Regions from separate parts of the Homo sapiens genome. Here region 2 is linked to region 1. The links come from fine-mapping of genetic effects on gene expression. A gene starts in region 1. The other region holds a variant in brackets. All regions are shown on one strand. Distances are between the middles of the regions.

Region 1 (12,611 bases):
CGGAGTCTCACTCTGTCACCCAGGCTGGAGTGCAGTGGTGCAATATTGGCTCACTGCAAGCTCCATCTCCCGGGTTCATGCCATTCTCCTGCCTCAGCCTCCCGAGTAGCTGGGACTACAAGCGCCCGCCACCATGCCCGGCTAATTTTTTGTATTTATTATTTTTTTTTTCTGAGACAAGTCTCGCTCTGTCGCCCAGGCTGGAGTGCAGTGGTGCAATCTCGGCTTACTGCAAGCTCTGCCTCTCGGCTTCACGCTATTCTCCTGCCTCAGCCTACTGAGTAGCTGGGACTACAGGCACCCGCCACCATGCCCGGCTAATTTTTTGTATTTTTAGTAGAGATGGGGTTTCACTGTGTTAGCCAGGATAGTCTTGATCTTTTGACCTCGTGATCCGCCCGCCTCGGCCTCCCAAAGTGCTGGATTACAGGCGTGAGCCACCGCGCACGGCCTAATTTTTGTATTTTTAGTAGAGACAGGGTTTCACCGTGTTAGCCAGGATGGTCTCGATCTCCTGACCTTGTGATCCGCCCACCTCAGCCTCCCAAAGTGCTGGGATTACAGGCGTGAGCTACTGCGCCCAGCCTTTTGAAACTAAAATTTTTAAAAAACACTATTACAATACTTAGGGACAAATCTGACAAAAGATGTGCAAGACCTCTGAAAACTACAAAACACTGCTAAGAGAAATTAAAGATGACCTAAATAAATGGCGAGATATACATAAGCACGGATCAGAAAACTCAATACTGTTAGGATGTCAATTCTCCATAGGTTGATCTGTACACTCAATGCAATCCCAGCTGAAATCGCAGCAGCTTTTGGTAAGCTAATTTAAAATTTATCTGGAAATACAATCTAAAATAGTCAAAATAACTCTGAAAAAGAGCAAAATCAGAGGACTAACACGTGGATTCAAGACTTATTATGAAGCTACAGTAATCATGACACTACCATAGACTTTATAAATACTGTACATTAGGCTGCCCTAAATTTATAATTTTTTTAAATTTCAATAATAAATTAATCTTAGCTTACTACAATTTTACTTTATAACTTTTTTTTTTTTGAAACAGAGTCTTGCTCTGTCACCCAGGCTGGAGTGCAATGGTGTGATCTCGGCTCACTGCAACCTCCGCCTCCCAGGTTATAGTGATTCTCCTGCCTCAGCCTCCCAAGTAGCTGGAATTACAGGTGCCCGCCACGACACCTGGCTAATTTTTTGTATTTTTAGTAGATATGGGGTTTCACCATGTTGATCAAGCTGGTCTTGAACTCTGGACCTCAGGTCATCCACCCACCATGGGCCACCCAAAGTGCTGGGATTACAGGCATGAGCCACCGCACCCGGCCTACTTTATAACTTATAAATGTTTAAAACTTTTTGACTCTTTTGTAATAACCATTAACACACAAACACATTTATAGCTGTACAAAAATTTTTTCTTTCTTTATATCTTCATTCTATAAGCTGTTTTCTATTAAAATTTATTTTTCTTTTTAAACTTTTTTGTAAAAAACTAAGACACACACACATTAGCCTAGGTCTACACAGGGTCAGGATCATCAAGATGTCACTAGGCAACAGAAATTTTTTTAGCTCCATTATAATCTTATGGGACAACCATAGAATTAATATATGGGATCTGTTATGTGGTGCATGACAATATAGAGAGAGATCCAGTTATGGCCTGCATGGTTTGGTATTGTTCAACTTTTTTTTTTTTTTTGAGACAGACTCTCGGTCTGTCGCCAGGCTGGACTGCAGTGGCGAGATCTCGGCTCACTGCAACCTCCGTCTCCCGGGTTCAAGCAATTCTCCTGCCTAGCCTCCCGAGTAGTTGGGACTACAGGCGCATGCCACCACATCCAGCTAATTTTTGTAATTTTTGTAGAGATGGGGTTTCAACATGTTGGCCAGGATGGTCTCGATCTCTTGACCTTGTGATCCACCTGCCTCAGCCTCCCAAAGTGCTGGGATTACAGGCATGAGCCACCACGCCCCGGCCTTGTTCAACATTTTTATAAATGCCTTGTATGAGGACACAAATGTACATATTTATCAAACCTGCAGTTGACACAAAGCTGAGAGGGATACCTAATAACGATGGATGGCTGAATCAGGATCCAAAAGGTCTTGACAGGCTGCAACTCTGTGTCGAATCTAACAAGATGAAATTTAACAAGGACAAAGGTAAGTCTGACACTTAAGTCCAGAAAATCAATACAAGGCAGGGGAGGTCTGACTTGATGACAATTCAGGTAGAAAACAAGGTTTTTTAACTGACTGAAATCATAGCAAGGTTCAAAAACAAGGGAGTAAGAAAGAAATGGGGTTTAACTTTATAAATATTATTGTTTTTCAGCTCAACATAAACTTTTAGATAGATTTGAAAACACAACAGGCCACTTCAGGAGGTAAGTACACATTACTGGAAGTCTTCAAGCCAAGTTTGATGACGACTCTGGATGTTGAAGAAGGAGTAGTGGAATCTCATATAAGGTTTAATAGAAGAAATGACCCCAAATAATGCCTAGACTCCATAATTTACTTAATATAGGTAGATGTAAGTACAGTTTACAAGGTAAAAATAATTAAATCAATTATTTCATTCCAATTGATTTAGTAGACTGACTAGTTAAGTCTCCGAAAGATCTACTGAATGAGGAGTTCGTATTTAGACTTTTTTCCCCGTCTTCTTCTATTAGTCCAAAGACCTTTTTTTTTTTTTTTTTTTAAAGAACGATAAAGCCAGGTGCGGTGGCTCACACCTGTAATCCCAGCACTTTGGGAGGCTGAAGTGGGCAGATTACCTGAGGTCAGAAGTTCGAGACCAGCCTGACCAACATGGAGAAACCCCGTCTCTACTAAAAATACAAAATTAGCCAGGCGGGTAGCACATGCCTGTAATCCCAGCTAAAGGAGGCTGAGGCAGGAGAATCACTTGAACCTGGGAGGTGGAGGTTGCGGTGAGCCAAGATCATGCCACTGCACTCCAGCCTGGGCAACAAGAGCAAAACTCCATCTCAAAAAAAAAAAATTGATGATAGTGCTTTCTCATTTCTCATTACTAACTTAAAAACTATTTTAAATTTGTTGTTATGTAAGTAATATATGCTCCTTGTAAATAAAATTAAACCTTTTTGATGAATATAAAATGAAAAGTAAAGGCTCCTCTCCTGCTTTCCCCCCAAATTCTCTTGGACTTCGCAAGCCTCTAAAGGCCCTCCTTTGCTGAATCCCTTGGAGACTTACACTCTGTATACCACAACACTTTTTATAATATGCCACATGTTTGCTTCCCAACAAGACCAGAAGCTCCTTAAAGGTAAGATTTGTCTTTTACAAATCATGTAACTCATGTACCAAATACAGACATATTGTAGATATAAAAATTTGTTTAACTTTTGATACTTCTGAAACAAGAAATAGCAGTATTATTCAGATGCTAAGTCTTATTTTCACTTCATATTTAAAGTGGACATTGGTTTTGCCAATCCTGCATTCATTTAACTCCTCTGACCTATCCACCCTGGTTATCATTGGCTTATGGTCATCCATTCAATTGTACTGAAAGGAGAATAAGATCTCTAAATCAATCAGAGCTTCACAATCCCACAGGCATGGTTTAGCACTGGGCATGTAATCCAATCTAGACCAAAGAACTGCAATCAACTTGAAGCTGAGAGAATAGATAGGACCCTGGATACTGCAGCCATCTTGGGAGCAAAGAATAGAGCCTATCCAAATATGGAGCCAACAACGAAAGAGCAAGCATGAGAGACAGACAGGGAGAAATGGGATCCTGGTGACATCATTTAGCACTCCCTTTAAGTATCACCATCCCATTTTTGATCTCAGAATTGTCTGACTTAATGGTGGGCGCAGTGGCTCATGCCTGTAATCCCAGTACTTTGGGAAGCTAAGGTGGGCAGATCACTTGACATCAGGAGTTCGAGACCAGCCTGACCAACATGGTGAAACCCCGTCTCTACTAAAAAATACAAAAATTAGCAGGGCATGGTGGCGGACGCCTGTAGTCCCAGCTAGTCGGGAGGCTGAGGCAGGAGAATCATTTGAACCAGGGAGGCAGAGGTTGCAGTGAGCCAAGATCGCACCACTGCATTCCAGCCTGGGCAACAGAGTGAGACTCCGTCTAAAAAAAAAACAAAAAAAACCTGTCTGACTTCGAGCCTTCTTCCTTCACCAAGCTTACTACTCTAACTCCCTAAGTCTGTCTGTACATTTGAGGAACTCTTCTTATCAGGCCTGAAAGGGTAGATGGAAAGGAGAAGAAAAAGGGATTATTTGAATTAAAAAATATAAAAAGATATACAGATAAACACACATACATATACTAGCAGACTCTGAGCTACATATAGACATGAAAATGGAGATGGCATGAAATATTTATGAAAAAGAGGCAGATGTCTGGATGTGCAAAGGCTGTTGGAAAAAAAAGCTTTATAAGAAAGGGGTTGCCGCGCGCGGTAGCTCACGCCTGTAATCCCAGCACTTTGGGAGGCCAAGGCGGGCGGATCTCGAGGTCAGGGGATCGAGACCATCCTGGCTAACACGGTGAAACCCCATCTCTACTAAAAATACAAAAAACCAGCCGGGCATGGTGGCGGGCGCCTGTAGTCCCAGCTACTCGGGAGGCTGAGGCAGGGGAACGGCGTGAACCCGGGGGGCGGAGCTTGCAGTGAGCCAAGATTGCACCTCTGCACTCCAGCCTGGGAGACAGAGCAAGACTCCGCCTCAAAAAAAAAAAAAAAAAAAAAAAAAAAAAAGAAAGGGGCATCTGGGGTGACCCTTGCATTATTTGTCAGCTATGAATCTCTTCTGCCACTCTCTCTTGTTCATTAGGCGTAATGGCTATCTTTCAGTTCTGTAAAAAGTAAGTTTCAGGCTCAAAGCAATTATGCCACTATCCGGATGCTCTTTCTCAAAATCCTCGTATGACTGTTCCTTTTTCATCCTTTAAATCTCTGTTCAAATTCCACCTCTTCAGAGATGCCTTTCCAGTCCAACCAACCTAAAGTGGGCCTTTCCCTCTTTCCATCACAACAGCTTACTTCCTTCAAAGCTGTTATCACCAGCTGTATTTACAATTTGTGGTTTATCGACTGTTTCCATCACTAGAATGTAAGCTCTCTGAAAGCAAGGATTTTGTCTTGAACACCTCTATTTATACCCAATGTCTGGCACAGAACGGTAGGAACTAAATAAATTAATATTTATTGAAAGAGAGAATGAGTAGCAAAAGGTGGTAAGATAGCCTGGGAAAGCAATCGGCATTGAAGGCAGGGTGTTCCTAAGGAAGGCGCTAGAATAAGGAAGTAGGAAAAGGCAGCTGGGCTGGACACTGAATAGGAAACTGAAGGTTTACGTCGGCTGGAATAAAGGTGTCGGACCGGGGCTTCAGGGCTCCCCTGTCCACGCGTGGGGTTGGCGGAGGGGCATAAATCACTGAGTGACCAACTGTGGGCGTTCCTTTCAGAGAAACCAAACGCGACAGTTGTCTTCAAACCCCGCTCTGTCCCGTGCCGCAGACTTTACGCGGCTGTCTTCCGCGAAATCGCTAACCCCCGGTCACCAGACTTATCGCCCGGGCCCGAGCCCCCCGGGAGCCAGAAGAGTGTTTGAGAAACGGACATTCTCCGCCGGTCCCAATAGGGGTCCGACACCAGCCCGTTGACGCGCGTTTCCCCGCTCCCAGCCCTCCAGTGGACCCGAACCGGATCCTTACTTACGCTTGTCTCCGGGCTATTAGCCGATGCATGGGAGTCGCCATCTTAGCGCGGTCAAAGCCGGCCGCGCAGGGTTTTGGGAAACTCCTCGGAAGGGCGGGGCTTCCAACCGGGAGGCCGTAGACGTAGGCGGGGCCAGACAGGCTTCTAAGGGGAGGTATCTTAGTGCCGGCTGGTGGGTCGGGAGGGGAGGGGCTGGAGGGTCGGGAGGGGAGGGGCTGGAGGGTCGGGAGGGGAGGGGCTGGAGGGGCTGGAGGGTCGGGACGGGAGGGACTGGTGGGTCGGGAGGGGCCGGTGTCTCCAGTATGGGTCTCGGGTTCTCGGGCCGAACAGGGTTTCAAAGGATGATTACAGGCAAGAACATTATCTGTGGAAAATGAGGACAACATTCTCGAACGAGGGATACACATACAAAGACAAAGAATGAAACTTTGGTGTTCAGAAAACTAGAAGTAGTCTGGAGAATAGAAAGGAATTAGTTGACCAGGATTGAGACCATCAATTGAAAGAATGACTTTAGCAAGCCATGGAGTGCAAACATATACGTTATTTCTGTTTTTTATGTATTTCACAGCGTTGTTACGAGTACTAAATGGGACTGTATAACTAAAGCTGCTTTATCAAGCAGAAAAGGACTATACAAATATTTTAGAATATTTTAGCTGCACCTACATCTAATGTCAGCTCACGGAGCTATTATTCTCTTAAAACCCACGTTCTCTGAAATATATATAATTTTCTGAAGTGTGTGTGTGTTTCTGGGTCATCCATATTTTTTCCTTTTTTTTTTAATTTGAGACAGAGTCTCGCTGTGTCGCCAGGCTGGAGTGCAGTGGCGCGATCTCGGCTCAGTGCAACCTCTGGGTCCCTGGTTCAAGAGATTCTCTTGTCTCACACTCCCGAATAGCTGGGATGACAAGCACGCGCCACCATGCCCAGCTAATTTTTGTATTTTTACTAGAGACAGGGTTTCACCATGTTGGCCAGGATGGTCTCGATCTCCTGACCTCATAATCCGCCCGCCTCGGCCTCCTAAAGTGCTGGGATTACAGGCGTGAGCCACCGCGCCCAGCCATATTTTTTCAATTAATAATTAACACTTAAAATGTTTTAGGAGCTGAGGACAGAGCATTTGAACAAATAAAATCCGTGTACACATGGAACTTTCTACAGACAATGAATGAAGACTATTCTCATGGGCATAAGTACTCTAACGAAAAATATTTCAGAGTAAGGGATTAAAGAGTGATTAGGAGTTAGGGAAGGTGATGATGTGACCTTTGAGCACAACTTGTTCTTCAAAAAAATAGGCTCTTACATGTTGTGTTCTCCAGCTTGATTTTTTCATTCCTCAGTGTACTTATGAAAATGTTTTCCCGGCCAGGCGCAGTGGCTCACGCCTGTAATCCCAGCACTTTCGGAGGCCGAGAAGGGCGGATCACCTGAGGTTGGGAGTTCAAGGCCAGCTTGACCAACATGGAGAAACCCCATCTCTACTAAAAATACAAAAAAAATTAGCCGGGCGTGGTGGTGCATTCATGTAATCCCAGCTACTCGGGAGGCTGAGGCAAGAGATTCGCTTGAACTTGGGAAGCAGAGGTTGCAGTGAGCCGAGATCGCGCCATTGCACTCCAGCCTGGGCAACAAGAGTGAAACTCCATCTCAAAAACAAAAAAAGAAAAGAAAATATTTTCCCATGTCTGCACATACAGATCTAATTCATTCTTTTTATACATTATGTTATGGATTACATGGATATTCCCCAAGTATCCAGCCAGTACCCTATTGCTGAACAATTAGATCATTTACCACAACAACAGAAAGAGTAAATCCCCCGTGTTGCTATAAGATGACATCCTAGTAGGATTGCTGGGTCAAAGGACATGCACCCTGTTTTTCTTTTTTTTGAGACGGAGTCTACCTCTATTGCCCAGGCTGGAGTGCAGTGACACTATCTTGGCTCACTGCACCCTCCGCCTCCCGGGTTCAAGTGATTCCCCTGCCTCAGCCTCCCGAATAGCTGGGACTACAGGCGCCTGCCCCCGTGCCTGGCTAATTTTGGTATTTTTAGTAGAGACAGGGTTTCACCATGTCGGCCAAGCTGGTCTCAAACTCCTGACCTCAGGTGATCCGCCTGCCTTGGCCTCCCAAAGTGCTGGGATTACAGGCATGAGCCAACGCACCGGGATGGCGCTATTGTTTTTTTAAAAAATGTTTTTACCCTTTATGTTTTACCATTGGTTATTGTAACTATTCAGGAAACCTCGGTGCTGTAAATGGTAAAATTGGAATCTGGTACAAAAATCAAGTGTAGGTTTACCCTTCATATGCCTTGGCATAGAACAACAAGAACTCTTCTTCCAGTAGCATAAAAGAATTTAACTAACTTGGCTGGGCATGGTGTCTCACACCTGTGGAATGCAGTGACATGATCTTGGCTTGTGGATCACTTGATGTCAGGAGTTCAAGACCAGCCTGGCCAATATGGTGAAACCCCGTCTCTACTAAAAATACAAAAATTAGCCGTGAGTGGTGGTGCGTGCCTGTAATCCCAGATACTGGGGAGGCTGAGGCAGGAGAATTGCTTGAACCCAGGAGGCAGAAGTTGCAGTGAGCCGAGATTGCACCGCTGCACTCTAGCCTGGGTGACATAGCGAGACTTGTCTCAAAAAAAAAAGAATTACCCAGGCATGGTGGCACATGCCTGTAATCTCTGCTACTCAGGAGGCTGAGGCAGGAGAATCGCTTGAACCCAGGAGGCAGAGGGTGCAGTGAGCCAAGATTGTGTCACTGCATTCCACACTCTAGCCTGGGCGACGGAGCAAGATTCCATCTCAAAAAAAAAAGAAAGAAAAAGAAAAAGAATTTAACTAACTTGGCTAAATAAGGGAGTGGTTCAGAGCAGGGTGACCATTCATTTTGTAAAGAAGAGTGGCTATGCAAGGGGATTTGAGAGTGGCCATTCTGGGCCTCTGTGAGTAAGAAGCTCTGATTCTCCAAATGAAAACAGGATTGGCTCTTTCATCCACCTCTGGGCATGAGGGCATGAGTAGTGCCCGAAACTCCCCAGAATGAGGTGAGAGCTGCTTTCCTTAATTTATTTCCACTTTCCAAGAAGACCTAAAAACAAAATGCTCAATAGTTGTGTCATGTTTCCTTATCTTCAGATGAAGCTGCTTGGGTTCCTTAAAGTCCTCAGGCTTTGATGCAACACTTTGCTGTGACATAGATCATAAGGCTGTGTGATTGTGAGTCCAGGATTTGCTGGCTCCTCTGGTGATTTAAACTAGTCTGCAGTAGAAGAGAAGGAAATTGACATGCCAAGAGAAACAGAGATGAGAGACAGAAAAAGACCTACCTAGACTTGATTCGCTTTTCCTTCGATTATTTGGGGTTATCTCAGCTTCCTCAGTATATTCCTTTTTTTTTTTTTCCTACGAAGTCTCACTCTGTCACCCAGGCTGGAGTGCCCCAGCATGATCTTGGCTCACTGCAACCTCTGCCTCCCGGGTTCAAACAATTTTCATGCCCCAGCCTCCCAAGTAGCTGGGATTACAGGCATGCATCACCATGCCTGGCTAAATTTTTTGTATTTTTAGTAGAGATAGTATTTCACCATGATGGTCAGGCTGGTCTCAAACTCCTGGCCTGAAATGATCTGCCCGTCTTGGCCTCCCAAAGTGTTGGGTTTACAGGCGTGAGCCACTGCACCCAGCCTGCATTTCTTTTTTTATTAAGATAGTTCAAGTTAGGTTTCTCTTTCTTGACCCCAAAGGATCCTTGACTTTATCACCACAGGTAGGGTTTATCCTCATTTTACAAATAAAGGGACTGAGACTCAGGCATGTTAAGAGATTTGTCCAAGGCCCACAGCCTTGAGCTTTTTCCATTACACATCTATTTCTCCCTTCCAGCCAGTTTTGTTTGAGATAACACAGAACCAATTTCCTTATGTCAATTCAGATTCAATTGCAAGAAAAACAAAACAAAACTCTGGCCACATAAACAATGAATTTATTGGAAGTTTATTGGCTAGCTCATAGTATAGAAGTAATTGAACACCCAGGCCTTGCAAAGATCTTGAATCAGAAAAGTTCAGATCTCAGGACTGGGAACTTGTGTGCTTCCTCTTTAAACAATTGCCAGCAGATCATCAGGTTCAACCCCCTGCAGTATCTGTGTACCTAATATTGCCTCGGCTTGAGCTGAGGTCACACCACTGCACTCCAGCCTGGTAGACAGAGTAAGACTCTATCTCAAAAAGAAAAATACTAAATCAAGATTAAGTTTACATGGTGTGTAATGCAAAATAAAACAGTAATTATAATTTGTTTTATGAATAAGAATGGCAAGATAGCCTGTCTCCACAAAAAGCAAATATAGCTTAAGAACACTTTAGGGCCAGGCATGGTGGTTCATCCCGGTAATCCCAGCACTTTGGGAGGCTGAGGTGAGTGGATTGCTTGAGCCCAGGAATTTGAGACCAGCCTGGGCAAAATGGCAAAACTCTGTCTCTATCATATATATATATATATATATATATATATATATATATATATATATATATATATATATATGATAGAGCTATATTACATATATATAATTTTTAATTTGTTTTTATTTATTTAATTTTATTTTTGAGACAGTCTCACTCTGTCACCCAGGCTAGAATGCAGTGGTGCGATCACAGCTTACCGCAACCTCTGCTTCCCAGGTTCAAGCAATCCTCCCACCTCAGCCTCCCAAGTAGCTGGAACTGTAGGCATGTGCCACCATACCTGGCAAATCTGTGTGTGCATGTGTGTGTGTGTGCACGCCCAGGCTGCTCTTGAACTCTTGGGCTCAAGTAACCCACCAGTCTCAGCCTCCCAAAGTGCTGGGATCACATGCATATTAAAGCTTGCTGCAAATTTCCAAGTATTGCCAGCATTTGTAAATGTGTCCACTTTAGGTAATACAGTACACTTGTCCATTTATTATATGTTGGACCAGGATTATTTCTGTGACAAAATATTCATGTTCTGTCTCTGCATTTAAAAACTACTGTTTCTGGCCAGGCGCAGTGGCTCATGCCTGTAATCCCAGCACTTTGGGAGACGAGGCGAGCGGATCACCTGAGGTCGGGAGTTTGAGACCAGCCTGACCAATATGGAGAAACCCCATCTCTACTAAAAATACAAAATTAGCTGGGCATGGTGGCACATGCCTGTATTCCCAGCTACTTGGGAGGCTGAGGCAGGAGAATCGCTTGAACTCAGGAGGCAGAGGTTGCGGTGAGCAGAGATTGTGCCACTGCACTCCAGCCTGGGCAACAAGAGCAAAACTCCATCTCAAACAAACAAACAAACAAACAAACAAACAGTTTCTTTTCCATTTTCTCCAATGAAATTTTATTAGCAGTCACTTAAAAATCGATGTTCTGGCTGGGCGCGGTGGCTCACGCCTGTAATCTCAGCACTTTGGGAGGCCGAGGTGGGCGGATCACTTGAGGTCAGGAGATCAAGACCATCCTGGCTAACACAGTGAAACCCCATCTCTACTAAAAACACAAACAATTAGCCGGGCGTGTTGGCAGCTGCCTGTAATCCCAGCTACTCGGGAGGCTGAGGCAGGAGAATGGCTTTAACCTGGGAGACGGAGCTTGCAGTGAGCCGAGATGGTGCCACTGCACTCCAGCCTGGGAGACAGAGCAAGACTCTGTCTCAAAAAAAAAAAAAAAAAAAAAAAAAAAAATCGATGTTCTGAAGGGCTATTTTTTTAAATTTTAATTTAATTTAATTTTTTTTGAGATGGAGTCTTGCTCGGTCGCCTAGGCTGGAGAGCAGTGGCGCGATCTTGGCTCACTGCAACCTCAGCCTCCCGGGTTCAAGCGATCAAGCAATTCTCCTACCTCAGCCTCCTGAGTAGCTGGGAATACTAAAGAGCAGTGGTGCATTCATAGCTCACTGTAGCCTCGACCTCCTGGGCTCAAGCCATCCTCCAGCCTCAGCCTCCTGAATAGCTGGGATTACAGGCATGTGCCACCATGCTTGGCTAATTAAAAATTTTTTAGGGAGGGGGATAGAGACAGGGTCTTGCAGGTTCACGACCACATAGGCTGGTCTTGAACTCCTGGACTCAAGTGATCGTCCTGCCTCAGCCTCCCGAGTAGCTAGGACTACAGGTGCTCACCACCAGATCCAGCTAAAGGGCTTTTCATCATTGATAAACCCTCAAAGTATATTTTAATCCCTGGCATTTTTATGTGAACATACCTACTGCACTGCATCATGAATTTTATATGTGGTAGACTGATTCGTTAGGGCTCCTCAAATTGCAGGTGAACCAAAATCCATGAAAAAAAAGTGTATTTAAAGGATGGGAAGATACTGCAAGACGCCAGAGCAGGGAAACTAAGCACCTCAGCCCAGAACCAAGGATGTGATGCCTTTTGTCAAGACAAACTAGCCTCTGCTTTCCTCCAAGTAGTGATCTATTTCCTTCAGGCCTCTCTGGCTGAAAGTATGGCCACTGAAACCTTGGGAACACATTCTTATGATTCCACAGCCTGTCAAAGACAAAACCCAAGCAAATAAGGAAATTGATTTTATTCAGGCTGTTGTGATAGGGCAAGCACCTTAGATCTGAAGGTCAGACTCTTGACAGGGTATGTTTGTCCGACACTTATAGGGAGGAGTCGGTAATTCACAGGTGGGGTGTTTTATAGTTGGAATTGTTTTTGTGATCAAGCTGAATCTCAATCAGCTGAACAGGAAATATCTCTATGGCTAGCTAGTCTCAGAGGGACAAACAGTTCCCCTTATGAGACAAATAATGCAAATTTGGAGAGTCTGTGTCTGGTCTTGCCATAAGTAAACAGT
Region 2 (12,611 bases), 910 kb after region 1:
ATCACTTTCTACTTTCTGGCTTGGACGTACAAAGTCCAATCTCAGTTTTGATCCCATAACACACAGAAACTTCTCAGCCAGACCAGTCCTCACACAGAGGATATGCACTGTCGGGCCCACACAGGCCCCAGAGCCTGACCAAACTGGGGAGGCCCCAGGGACAGACCATTGAGAAGGCCAAGATCACAGACTTAAGGGCCAAGCTTCGAATATGTTTCCTTCTACTTGGACTTTTGGATTGAAAATCCTGTCCTAACCCTTCCTTCCTCTTTTGAGGACATCGTTCCAGCCTCTAGGAATGGAATCTAGTGCCTCCGGGTGGGCCAAGCCCTCCAATTCACCCCCTATATTAGTGTTCATAACCTGGGTGGCTTTAAACAAAAGAAAGGTATTCTCTCAGTTCTGGAGGCCAAGTCCAAAATCACAGTATCTGCAGAACCATGTTCCCTCTGAAGGCTCCAGGTAGAATCAATTCCCTGCGTCTCCTCGCTTCTGGATCTCACCAATCTCCACCTCCATTGTCACATGGCCTTCTTATAAGGACACCAGCCGTTGATTTAGGGCCCACCCTAATCCAGTGTTACCTTATTTTAACAAACCTCATCTGTAAAGACCCTATTTTCAAATAAAGTCACATTCTGAAATAATGGGGCTAAGACTGTAACATGTCTTTTGGATGGCACAGGTCAACCCACGACAGTCCCCATACTGCCTCCAGTATGGGTACACATTCTCCAGCATCATCACAGTCTTACTCTGCTTTTTCCTCATCAGCACCTTAGACTTTGGCTGGAAGAACATTCTGGAAAGACAGGCTCAGGAGCTTTGCAGGCTCCTGGAACTGGGAAGAGTCCAGCGTATGTGGCAACTGGGCATTTGCATGTGTCACCCACAGTCTGGATCTCTCTCCTCAGCACATCCGTGGGTCCCCACTCCGCTGAGAGACCGTGGGAGGCGTTCTGGAAGCACTACACGGTGCCTCCTCTCTTCTGAGGTAGCTCAGGCAGGGCCTTGGGCCTGTAAAGCTCTGCTGGCCACATTGGCCTCCTTACCAAGAGAAATGTTTCCAGTGGCTCTGAGCCCAGCAGTGAGTCACAGCAGGGTCCCCCACCAGCAAATGTGCTGTTCCAGCTCCAATGACATTTTGAAGCTCCCTTCTCAAAGTTTCAGATGTGGTGGATGGAGGTGGACAGGAGCTTTGAGCCAAGCGAATGCAGAGGAAGTGTCAGGCTCAACAGTCCTGAATTGGAAGTGTTCAGACACCCACCCGGAAGATGGGGTGTGGAAAACCCAAGCAGCAGAGAAAGTGAAAACGCGAACGGGCATGTGGGAGTCAGCTAGTGACGATATGATTTACGTTTGTGTCAGAGCCGCCGTCCCTGCACTGCGGTGGGTGGTTTGCTTTTGTTTGTTTTAAGTTCCAGCATTGCCACTGACTATGGGATCTTGGGCAAGTAGTTAGCCTCTATCTGTGCCTCAGTTCCCTTGTCTGTCAACCAGGGGCAGAAATACTGTCACCTTAAAGGGTTGTGGGGAAGACTTGAACCCTTCAGGCAGGTAATTCAGGCAGGTAAAGAGAAGGTTAGCTCTAATCTGGCGCACACTACACCCTCGCTAAAGGGACAAGAGCTCTGAAAATGGGTGTTTGTGTCTAACTTTGGAGCTCTGGGTTGGGACACCTCCTTATACCCAAGCTGGGTCTTTGCACAGTGACTCGTGACAAATCACGTTATCAGAGACATACATAAAGACCAATATGCAAGGACGTTTCCAGCAGCATTACTAATAATAGCAAAAAAAAAAAAAAAAAAAAAAAACTGGAAACAACCCAAATAGCCCAAAAAAGGGGAAATGTATGATAGCAGATCCATGCAGGAGAATATTGTGCAGCTATTAAACAAAAGGCAGCAAACAGAACTCTCTCTACAGTGGAACCCTCATCCTGTAAACTGCATATATTCATCACTAAACAGGCAAAATCATGACTGGAGGGAAAGAGACCCGAATGGCAATAGTGCTTCCTCCTGGGTGGTGGGGTTCTGGGTAAGTCTGGTCGTCTTTGCATTCTTCCATATTTTCTAAATTTTCTAAGACGAATTGCTTTTATAGTTAGGGGGAAAAATGAGTAGGTGGTGTTTCATGAGCCACTTTCCAAGGCTGATGAGAAAGCCAGCATTGGTCAGGTTTTAGTGAGGCCTCTTTCCCTCCCTAGGGTCATGCAATATTCTTGGGGGTCCTGTACACAGCAGAACATTCAGGGAAGAGTCTCACATCACCCCTGATGTGACAGCAAGGGTGGGCCTCTGCCAGATACCCCCCTGAGGTCCTGCCAGGTCTTAGCAAGTGCCTAGGCCAGGTGTACCATTCTCTATTGCTTGCGAAACCTGCACACTGAACCACCAGCCCCTTCCCAACTTTAGGAAAAGTGTCCCAAATCTTGCAGTGAGACCAAAACAGATTCATATCCAAATACACTGTCCCCTCACTGGGGTCAGAAAAGTGTGACAAGGACAATGGACCACTGACCACTGCAGGAAGAAGCTCCAGCACCTACAGAATCAGGAAGCGTTGTGGAAAGGCCGAGGGAACCACAGCGTGAGGGCCAGGAAAGCAAGGGTGGGGTCCTGTGCAGCCCCTGAGTCTGGCACTGGGCTCAGAGGAGTAGCGAAGCCCAAGTGGAAGGAGGATACAGAGACTGCTGCGGTTAAGGGCACACTGGAGGGTTTGACCTGTCAGTCTGCAAAGATGGAGACAATGACTCCAAAGGAAACCATGGAGATCTGGAATGTGTGGCCCTGGGCCACATCTCCATCTTTCTTTCTTTTTTTTTTTTTTTTTTTTTTTTTTGCAGAGTCTTGCTCTGTCACCCAGGCTGGAGTGCAGTGGCGCGATCTCGGCTCACTGCAGCCTCCGCCTCCCGGGTTCAAGTAGTTCTTCTGCCTCAGCTTCCTGAGTAGCTGGAATTACAGGCATGCGCCACCACACCCTGCTAATTTTTTGCACTTTTAGTAGAGATGGGGTTTCACCATGTTGGCCAGGCTGGTCTCAAACTCCTGACCTCAAGAGATCCGCCCACCTCCGCCTCCCAAAGTGCTGGGATTACAGGCATGAGCCACCGTGCCCAGCCTGTCTCCATCTTTCTGATGACTCCCCAAGTCCATCCATGAGCCCAGATCTAGGGTTTCGAGGGGAGAAGGGGGACGGAAGATACTCTAGGGCTTCCCACATCCCAGGACCCTGATCCTGCACCTGTCAAGGTCAGTTTGCCCTCTTGGTGGCTGGACCTTGAGACTACTGGCCTGAAGACATTCAGTGTATCTTCATTCAATTCAACGTATTTCTTCTCCATCAGATCAGAAAAATGGAATGGTCCTCTACCAGGAATAAGTTTGATTTGGTTTAAGCACAGCAGGGGCAAGAATGTGCCAGAGAGCTTTAACGTGTCTTCCTGGGCGACCTCCTGGGGCCCTCGCAGTCCCCAACAGCCTCTCCCGAGCTCTCACTGAGCCCTTGACCATGCCGCCATCTGCTCCAGCTCCAGCCTTCTTCCTCTGCCCTGCACTTGAAGCAGGAGCTCTAAGCCCATTAGCTCATTTGTGCTATAAGGCCTAAAATGAAGGCCTACTATGTGCCACCGTGACAACTGGTAAAATTGGGAGGGCCTCGGATGGTCTAACCACAAGTTCCCCCTCCACCTCTGTTCCTGTGGATAAGGTCCTCTGGCCAGACAACCTCCTTATCCGGGAGACCAGATGCAGTTCCTGCTTCTCTCTGAGTTTCAGTTCCCTGCCAGCCCTCAGAACTATTCAGCCAAGTCAACCACGTCCTCCCATGGGCAGCAGGGGCACCTCGCCCTCTTGGTACTACAAAGCCTGCTTCCACAGCCCCAGGTGGTTCACATTGCTCCTGAGTGTGACTCCCCTGTGGCTGGTGTGGAGTGCTGAGTCCTCCCTGGGGCTGTGAGCATATATGACTGATAAACTGCTGTCAACATATCTGTCCAGTGCTGGGTGTCAAGTGTTCACGCATCCCGTAACCATAGGGTGACATCCTCCCGCACTAATGGGGTGAAAAAGAATTGATTAAAGCACCTTAAGTTCTCCCAGTGGTGGGGAGGCTTGGTGGCTGGCCAGGGCTTGCAGAGCCAGTGAGGTAAGACATCCAGCAATGTGTACAAGTGGGAACTGGGCCTAGGGCTCCCTCAGCCTGAGGCTCTATTCCCGAGAAAGGCTTTCCCCATGGGGCTGCCCCAGGCCCAGAGGTCTGGACCACATCCACTTACTTTATCAGGCCTCTTATAGATTAAAAACCAAAGACATACCAAGATGCGGATATAAATCCTGTGGCAGGTTTTAAATGCTTACATTTAACAAATAACTGCTCCTAACATTAAAACCTCACTTGGAACCATCCCCAACATCTAAATATAAAGAGGCAATTGTGAATGTGAGGCTTAGGCCAGGAGGCTCCCTGCCCCCGGCCACCAGGCTGAGCCCCGTGTCTGGAGGGGCAGCATGTGGGCCACACTGCCTGCACCAGGCCTGCCCAACGACCATGCGGCCAGGGCTCCCCTCCCTCCTCACCCCTTCCTTCATTCCTCTTCTTTCCCTGCTCCTCCCTCCTCCTTCTCTATCCACTTCCCTTCCTCCTCCTCATCCCCACTTTCTCCTCCCACCCATCTTTCTCTCTCCCTGTACCCTCCTCCACTGCCTCTCCCCTCCGCTCCCACCCCCGCTCACACATCTGAGCCCTGAAAGCCTGTGGGGACCTTGTGGTCCCAGGTGGGCCCAACTGCTCACTGCTGCCTAACCCTCTCCCTCCCACCTGGGACCTGCTGGGTTGTGGCTTGTCCTAGGGGCGCCAACCTTCCAGATCTGCATGACCAGGTCTTCACTTTAACGCTGCTGGTGTGGTCAGCAAAGCCTGGACTCGTCAGGAAGGGCTTCATGATGCAGGAACTGCGGCGAGTCCTGTACCTTCGCTGTGGCCTCACCTCTGTGTCTCCTGACATCCTGACACAGCCTGGAGCTTTGCCTCCCCACCTGACACTCCCGACACCCTAACAGACCACACTGCCCAGTTGCCCTTGCCCACGAAGGCCTCACCTCTCCACAACCTGCCTTGTAGAGTGTAAGGTGGCCTCTCTGTCCCCTGTGGCCCACTCCGGGTGACTGACACGATGGCACCAACCAGGATCCTGCAGGGCAGGCACCGCCTCTCCTGCCATCCCACTCCTGCCTGGCTAAAGATCACAGCCCAGTGCTCCCAGCTGTATGTCCTCAGGACACCCTGGCGCAAGGTCTGGCTGGCCCTTCCACTTCCTTCAGCTGGACTGAGTTGTGGAGCTTGCCAGATGTTTCCAGAGAGGTGAAGGGAGGTCTCAGCTGTTGGAGTATGGGTGCTTCTAGTTTTAAAGAGGTGTGGGCTCTGCTAAAGTTTCCGTCTTTCATTCAGTCACACTCCCTGCACACCCACGGTGTGCCAGGCCCCATGCTAAGTGCTAGGGATACAGGGAGCAACAGCCAGACAGTGCCCTGTCCTCAGAGCTTTCAATGATGGCAGGCATTCAGCCAGCAATGACAATGATACTCAACAATGAGTATATAATAACTATTAGAATTTGAGGGACACAGGAGTGTACACCAGGGGCTCTGATTTCATCCAAGCCAGGGATGGAATGATAGGGGAAAGCCCATCTGCACAATTTTGGTTGGGATTTGAGGGGCAGATAGAAGAAGCTGGTCAAAAGAGTAAGAAAAGGAGGTCCTGTGGGGTCCTGGCAGGCAAGGGACCCCACAGGGAACCTGGGTTTCATGCATATGAAGTCATGGAAGAAGGCTCCTGTGGCCACAATGTGGTGAGTGGGGGCGGCCAGCAGGCTGAAGTCAGATCCCCCAGGCCTGGGATGCAGACCACTACTTAAGGCTGAATTGCTTCAGGTGGAATCCTGGTGCAGGGTCCCAGGCCTGACCCCAGAGGCTGGCTCCTCCCCAAACTGCCCCCAGCCATGTGCTCTGTTCTTTCATGGTCTCAGAGAAGAAGCTGGTCAGGACAGAGGACCCTGAGGAAGGGCTCTCTGTTTAGACAGCTCCTATCCCACTCCTTCAGGCCAGTCCTGGTCATGCTCAGGACATGGACCAGGAGCAAAGCGCCATGCTCTGCCCCTCCCTGCA[T/C]GTGCCAGCCCCACTGGTCACACCCCGATGGCCCTTACATACTTACAGCTGTGCCACTGGGTAATTTAGCTCCCAGGGGTATTATATTTAAGGTTTTGTCAACAGGCTATTTATAAAATGCCTCTCAGGCGTGGAGAGGAAGCTCAGAGGGAGTAGGGGATGGGCACACTGCTCCTCCAGAATTATAGAGCTGCTAGAGAACCAGCTAGGACTGCAGAGGCAACAGGAATGTGTATGGTCATCAAGGTGGCTGTGGTCCGAGGACACATGCCCACCATCCTGGCAGCAGGGTGGCAGGTGTATGTGCTGAGACTGGCCTGCACTCAGGCTGTTCTCTGCACTGGCCACCTCAGGCCCCTCGCCCTCCCCATCTTCAGTTGTTCAGATCCCACCATTCTTCAACATTCAGCCAGGATGACCCCTCCTCCCCAAACCCCCACTGATTCTGTGGCTCCTCCTCCAGTACTGTGGCTCCTCCCCTGGTTCTGGGCTCCTCCCCCGGTTCTGTGGCTCCTCCTCTGGTTCTGTGGCTCCTCCTCTGGTTCTGTGGCTCCCCTCCCGGGTTCTGTGGCCCCTGCTCCGGTTCTGTGGCCCCCTCATCAGGTTCTGTGGCCCCTCGTCCAGTTCTGTGGCTCCTCCTCTGGTTCTGTGACTCCTCCTCTGGTTCTGTGGCTCCTCCTCTCGTTCTGTGGCTCCTCCCCTGGTTCTGTGGCTCCTCCTTCGGTTCAGTGTCTCTTCATCCGGTTCTGTGACTCCTCCTCTGGTTCTGTGGCTCCTCCTCCAGTTCTGTGGCTCCTCCTCTGGTTCTGTGACTCCTCCTCTGGTTCTGTGGCTCCTCCTCTTGTTCTGTGGCTCCTCCTCCAGTTCTGTGGCTCCTCCTCCAGTTCTGTGGCTCCTCCTTCAGTTCAGTGGCTCTTCATCCGGTTCTGTGTCTCCTCCTCTGGTTCTGTGGCTCCTCCTCCAGTTCTGTGCCTCCTCCTCTGGTTCTGTGGCTCCTCCCCTGGTTCTGTGGCTCCTCCTCTGGTTCTGTGGCTCCTCCCCTGGTTCTGTGGCTCCTCCTCTGGTTCTGTGGCTCCTCCCCTGGTTCTGTGGCTCCTCCTTCGGTTCAGTGGCTCTTTGTCCGGTTCTGTGTCTCCTCCTCCGGTTCTGTGGCTCCTCCTCCAGTTCTGTGACTCCTCCTCTGGTTCTGTGGCTCCTCCTCCAGTTCTGTGGCTCCTCTTCTGGTTCTGTGGCTCCTCCTCTGGTTCTGTGACTCCTCCTCTGGTTCTGTGGCTCCTCCTCTCGTTCTGTGGCTCCTCCCCTGGTTCTGTGGCTCCTCCTTCGGTTCAGTGGCTCTTCGTCCGGTTCTGTGGCCCCTCCTCTGGTTCTGTGGCCCCTCCTCTGGTTCTGTGGCCCCTCCTCCGGTTCTGTGGCCCCTCCTCTGGTTCTGTGTCTCCTCCTCCAGTTCTGTGGCCCCTCCTCCGGTTCTGTGGCTCCTCATGACCTTGCTGTTATCACAGCTCTACAGCTGGCTCCCACCATGGTTTAGAGAAAGGCCTCAGCTCCACGAGGCAAACAGGCAAGAGCTTTTTTTTGTTTTTTTCCTCTCCCTGAAAATCCCATAATTTGGGGTCACTTTTGGCTCTAAGGATGATGTTATCTTCAGGTATTAAAGAGTCTTATCTAGTCCAGCTAAAATCAAAACTTTATACAGCACTGTGAATATATTATCCTACTGAGCTATACACTTAAAAAAATGATCAGTAGGGTAAATTTTTATCTGTATTTTACCACAATTTAAATTTTTAAAAATCTAAAAACACTTTACTCTCACAAGCAATCTTAGCCTTTTGTCTCCCTCACTCAAGCCTGCACCTCAGCTCAGGGACTGGCAAGGGGGGCCAGTGGGGGTACATTGTTTAATGACATGAGATGAGTGGCTGTACTAGTCAGAGTCCTCCAGAGAAACAGAACCAATAGCAGCCATATATACACATAAAGAGTTTGTGAACATGGCTACTGAGAGATGGCAGACAGATTGAGAGAGAGAGAGACTTCTAAGGAATTGGCTCACATGATTATGGGGTCCGGCAAATCCAAAATCTGTAGAGCTGATGTCCTAGTTTAAGCCCAAAGGCCAGAAGTCGCTGTGGAACCAGGAAAAGCCTATGTTCCAGTTCACAGGCCATCAGGCAGAAGAATTCTTAATTGGGGGAGGGTCAGCGTTTTTGTTTTATTCAGGCCTTCAACTAATTGGATAAGGCCCAACCACGTTAAAAAAGATAACCTGCTTTACTCTGTCTACTACTTAAATGTTATTCTCAGCAAGGTGTGGTGGCACATGCCTGTAATCCCAGCATTTTGGGAGTCTGAGGCAGGTGGATCACTTGAGTCCAGGAGTTCAAGACCAGCTTGGGCAACATGATGAAACTTACATCTCTGCAAAAAATACAAAAATTAGCCAGGCATGGTGGCACGTACCTGTAGTCCCAGCTACTCAGAGGCTGAGGTGGGAGGATCACTTGAGCCTGGGAGGCAGAGGTTGCAGTCAGCTGAGATCGCACCACTGCACTCCAGCCTGGAGGCTGGGCAATGGAGCGAGATCCTATCTCAAAAAGAACAAGGCCAGTCTGGGTAACACAGCAAGACCTCATCTCTAGAAAAATAAAAATAAAAACTTTGTTTGATGTGGTGATGCACATCTGTAGTCCTAGCTGTTTGGGAAGCTGAGGAAGGAGGATCACCTGAGCCCAGGAGTTTCAGGCTGCAGTGAGCTGTGATCATGCCACTGCACTCCAACCTGGGTGACAAAGCAAGACTCTGACTCTTGAAAAAAATAGTAACAAAAAATAAGAAAAGTTATTCTCATCCAAAAACACCCTCACAGAAGCACTCGGAATAATGTCTAACCAAATATCTGGGTGGCATGTGGCCCAGTCAAGTCAACACATAAAATTAACCAACACAGAAGTACAGAGTAGAGACAGTGGGCCCTGCCCTGTTTCCAGCAGCCCTCACTACTGGCTGGTGTCCCTGGGCCTCAACTTCCGCATTTCTTCAGTGAGATAAGGTCTGTGAACCCCTCTGTAAGCTACAAATGTGTGCTGTTGGAGTTGGAGTGAGTTGGAGTTGTTGGAGTTGTTGTTGTTATGATTATTTTAGCGACCTTAGTAAATACCCTGAAGGTTGCTGAGGAACTTGGCAGGGTTCCCACGAGCAGCTGAGGTGGGGGTGGGGGTGGGGTTGAAATAATTGCCAAATACCTTCCTGGAATGTTGATTTCCAAAGGGAATTTATGGTCCCTGGTAGTCATTATTTCAGGGCGACTTATCAGAAAAACTGCCCGCAGCATCATCATAAGCACTTATTCCACAGGAAAGTTGTTTGCAAAACACAACAAACATCAATAATGATGTTCACAGAGCTGTAAATCTTCTAAGCCTGCCTTCCCTTCCTGGGACTAAGACACTTGATTTGGTTCTCCAGGAGCTCAGAAGTTTCCAAATAGATAACAGAATATCAAAGTCCATTAAGCAAGGTAATTTACAATAGTGGCAGGCCAAATTCAGGGAAATACATTAGGGCATTTTCCCATTTGGTTTGTAGAAAAGACATTATTCTAAGCACACAAACAATGAATGCTGTTAGGTGACAATGAGGAAATCTGTTCACTCTCCTAACGAGTTTATTCATCCCCCTCACCATGCAGCACATTAATTTTGAGTGAAAGTTGCACCACCAGATAAGATTCTCAAAGCTCTGACATAAACACCTGAGACCTCATTTCCGACCCATTAAGTAAGCATCACTGGGCATTGTAACAAAGAGAAGCGGGGGCACAAAGGTGACTTCCTTTAGAGCTCTGACTCTTACCTCAAGCTATCCCTGGAGTTATGAAACAAAGAAGCAATTTCAAATTGTGCACTGCAGAAACTTTCAGAGGCCCTGAGAGTGTTTGGGGAGAGGAATAAAATGTAAAGTGATACTAAACATGAAGTGAAATTGCTACATTTTTTTTCATGTTTTAAAAAACAACCAAAGTTTGTTTCCATTCTCTGCTGCTCTCTCCAGGTTGCACTCCCCTTTGCCCCCACCCCACCTCAGAGTGGACTCCATTTCCAGGTGTAGTCAGGAACCGGGTCAGAATGGACCCTCTCACCCATAGAAAAAAATGGGAATTATTCATGCTACTCTGTGGCCCATTCATGGAGCAACCTAAAGAGATGGAAGAGAAACTAACTCACAATTTAGTAGTTATTGAGCTCCTACTATATATCTTTGTTGCAAAGGACAGGAAACCAACTCAAACTAACTTAAGCAAAACAATGAATGTATTGATAATCAGGATCAATCATCCCACTAGTATGGTGATATGGTTTGGATCTGTGTCCCCACCCAAATCTCATGTTGAATTGTAATCCTCCCTGTTGGAGGTGGGGCCTGGTGAGAGGTAACAGGATCATGGGGGGTGAAGTTCCCATGAATGGGTTAGCGCCATTCCCCTTGGTACTGTTCTTGTGATAGTGAGTGAGTTATCGTGAGATCTGGTTGTTTAAGCGTGTGTAGCTCCTCCCCTCTCTCTCTCTGTCTCTCTCTCTCTTCCTCCTGCTCCAGCCACATAAGACATTCCTGCTTCCTCTTTGCCTTCCACTATGATTGTAAGTTTCATGAGGCCTCCCAAGAAGCATAAGCCACTATGCTTCCTGCATGGCCTGCAGAACTCTGAGCCAATTAAACCTCTTTTCTTTATAAGTTATCCAGTCTCAGGTATTTCTTTTCTTTTTTTTTTTTTGAGATGGAGTTTCGCCCTTGTTGCCCAGGCTGGAGTGCAAAGGTGTGATCTTGGCTCACTGCAACCTCCACCTCCCAGGTTCAAGTGATTCTCCTGCCTCAGCCTCCCAAGTAGGTGGGATTACAGGCATGCTCCACCACACCTGGCTAATTTTTGTATTTTTAGTAGAGACAGGATTTCACCATGTTGGTCAGGCTGGTCTCGAACTCCTGACCTCAGGTGATCCACCCACCTCAGCCTCCCAAAGTGCTGAGATTACAGGCGTAAGCCACTGCACCCGACCTCAGGTATTTCTATATAGCAATGCGAAAACTAATACAAATGGTAAACACCATCTGTGCCTGTTAGCAGCCTAACATTAGAGGCTAGGTAGCAGTCTAAACTTCCAATTCTGTGGTGTCATTGTTGTGTTTCCTGGTTTCTCCCTTGAAAACCAAGACTTCCAAACTAGCTGAGTCCAAAGTTGCAAAGTCAGGAAGCAAAAATTATGAGTGTGTTATTAGGTATAGTAGTGAAGGAAGCTTTGCTCACTTTTACCTTCTTGATTCCAGGATCCCTGTATTTTGATGCTATTCTCTAAAATCCTCCCCCCACCCCCTGCCAAGGATGCAATATTGTTTTTAGCTTACTATCCTTGCAGGAAGAGGAAAATTCATAATAGCTCTCAGTCTATAGGTCAGGGAGCTAATGTGATGATTCTGTCAATTGCAGAGTATGTCTATTCCAATTAGATACCTAGAGACTAAGGAAGTATCACAAGAGTGAGTCCATGGGCCCAGTGTGAGATGAAGTTTGGTCAAAACTCCATTTATCAGCTCACCACCATAAACCTTTCCTTTGACTAGTAGACCAAGGGGGTAGTTTGAGTTCCCAGGAATTAGCAAAAATTAAAATCTAGTGTCTAGCGGCCCCTAAAAGGACTGCCTGTTTCCTCATTCCTCAGATCCAGTGTCTGCAGATCCCAGTGGTCAAGGCTTAGGAGTAGTTTTGCAGTATATATATGGATGTATTTGTGGCATTTTGCAGATTTCTTTCTCAAGAAGGCCAAGAACCGTGTTGATCACGTGGTTCCAGGACGTGAACCGGCTTAGGTCTGGGAAAGTGAAGGGGGGACCATGACTGCATTGTGGGGGCCGAAGTTGGCTTCTGGCCACAGATCGTGCTTGTCAGGATGGTTCAGTGTGCTGTCCACCCACTTCAATCCTAGAGGCTCCAGATAAAGCAGCTACCACCAAAGTGCCCCTCCATCAAGACATTCTGATTCCCACACTGGGTATGTGTGCAGTGGGAAAAGGAGGAGGGCAGGAACGGTATTATTTGACTGTTACCGGTGTCACCCAGCATTGCCTTTTTTTGCTCACAACTAACATTTAAGGCGGGTTTTCTCTGGCCTGAACTCTCCCCTCATGGGTGCTTTGTGGATTCTTTGGGAACCCCAAATGGAACACTTGGCTGCAGGTTCCTCTGTGTGGCTGCTGCTTTCCTCCCTCAATCTCCAGGAATTTGGGGGTCCATCTGTCTTCAGGGTCACCTTTCCCTTCTGGGCAGGTTTATGAGGCCAGCCCTTTGCCCCACGTGGCCCATATCTGTAAGAAACACTTACTTATGCATCAGTGGTCTTACTACTGGTAGAAGCACAGTTGGCTCCAAATGTGCCTCACACCTCT

Which allele goes with the higher level. Alleles are on the strand shown, and positions count from the first base shown. SD is a standard deviation of normalised expression in the study named.
For the expression in tibial artery of the gene that starts at base 5,807 in region 1, C is the high allele of the variant in region 2 and T is the other (small effect, 0.17 SD a copy in GTEx).

Evidence for each region. PIP is the estimated chance that this variant, and not a neighbour inherited with it, causes the effect.
Region 2: its variant is fine-mapped to the expression of ZCCHC10 in tibial artery (GTEx, PIP 0.97).

Annotation. Positions count from the first base shown.
Region 1 is chr5:133,020,743-133,033,353 of GRCh38, forward strand. ZCCHC10 (zinc finger CCHC-type containing 10) reads right to left here and starts at 5,807. Exons shown (of 5, transcript NM_001300816.3): 1 at 5,755-5,807; 2 at 2,099-2,164. The coding sequence starts at 5,795. RefSeq lists an enhancer at 5,567-5,876 and a silencer at 5,957-6,086.
Region 2 is chr5:133,929,135-133,941,745 of GRCh38, forward strand. All of the region lies in intron 3 of LOC105379182 (a long non-coding RNA gene), which reads right to left. Among named protein-coding and RNA genes, the nearest start is that of WSPAR, 22 kb to the left of the region's middle. RefSeq lists enhancers at 1,190-1,339, 4,034-4,661, 4,124-4,183 and a silencer at 1,560-1,639. The variant T/C (reference allele first, on the strand shown) is at 6,174.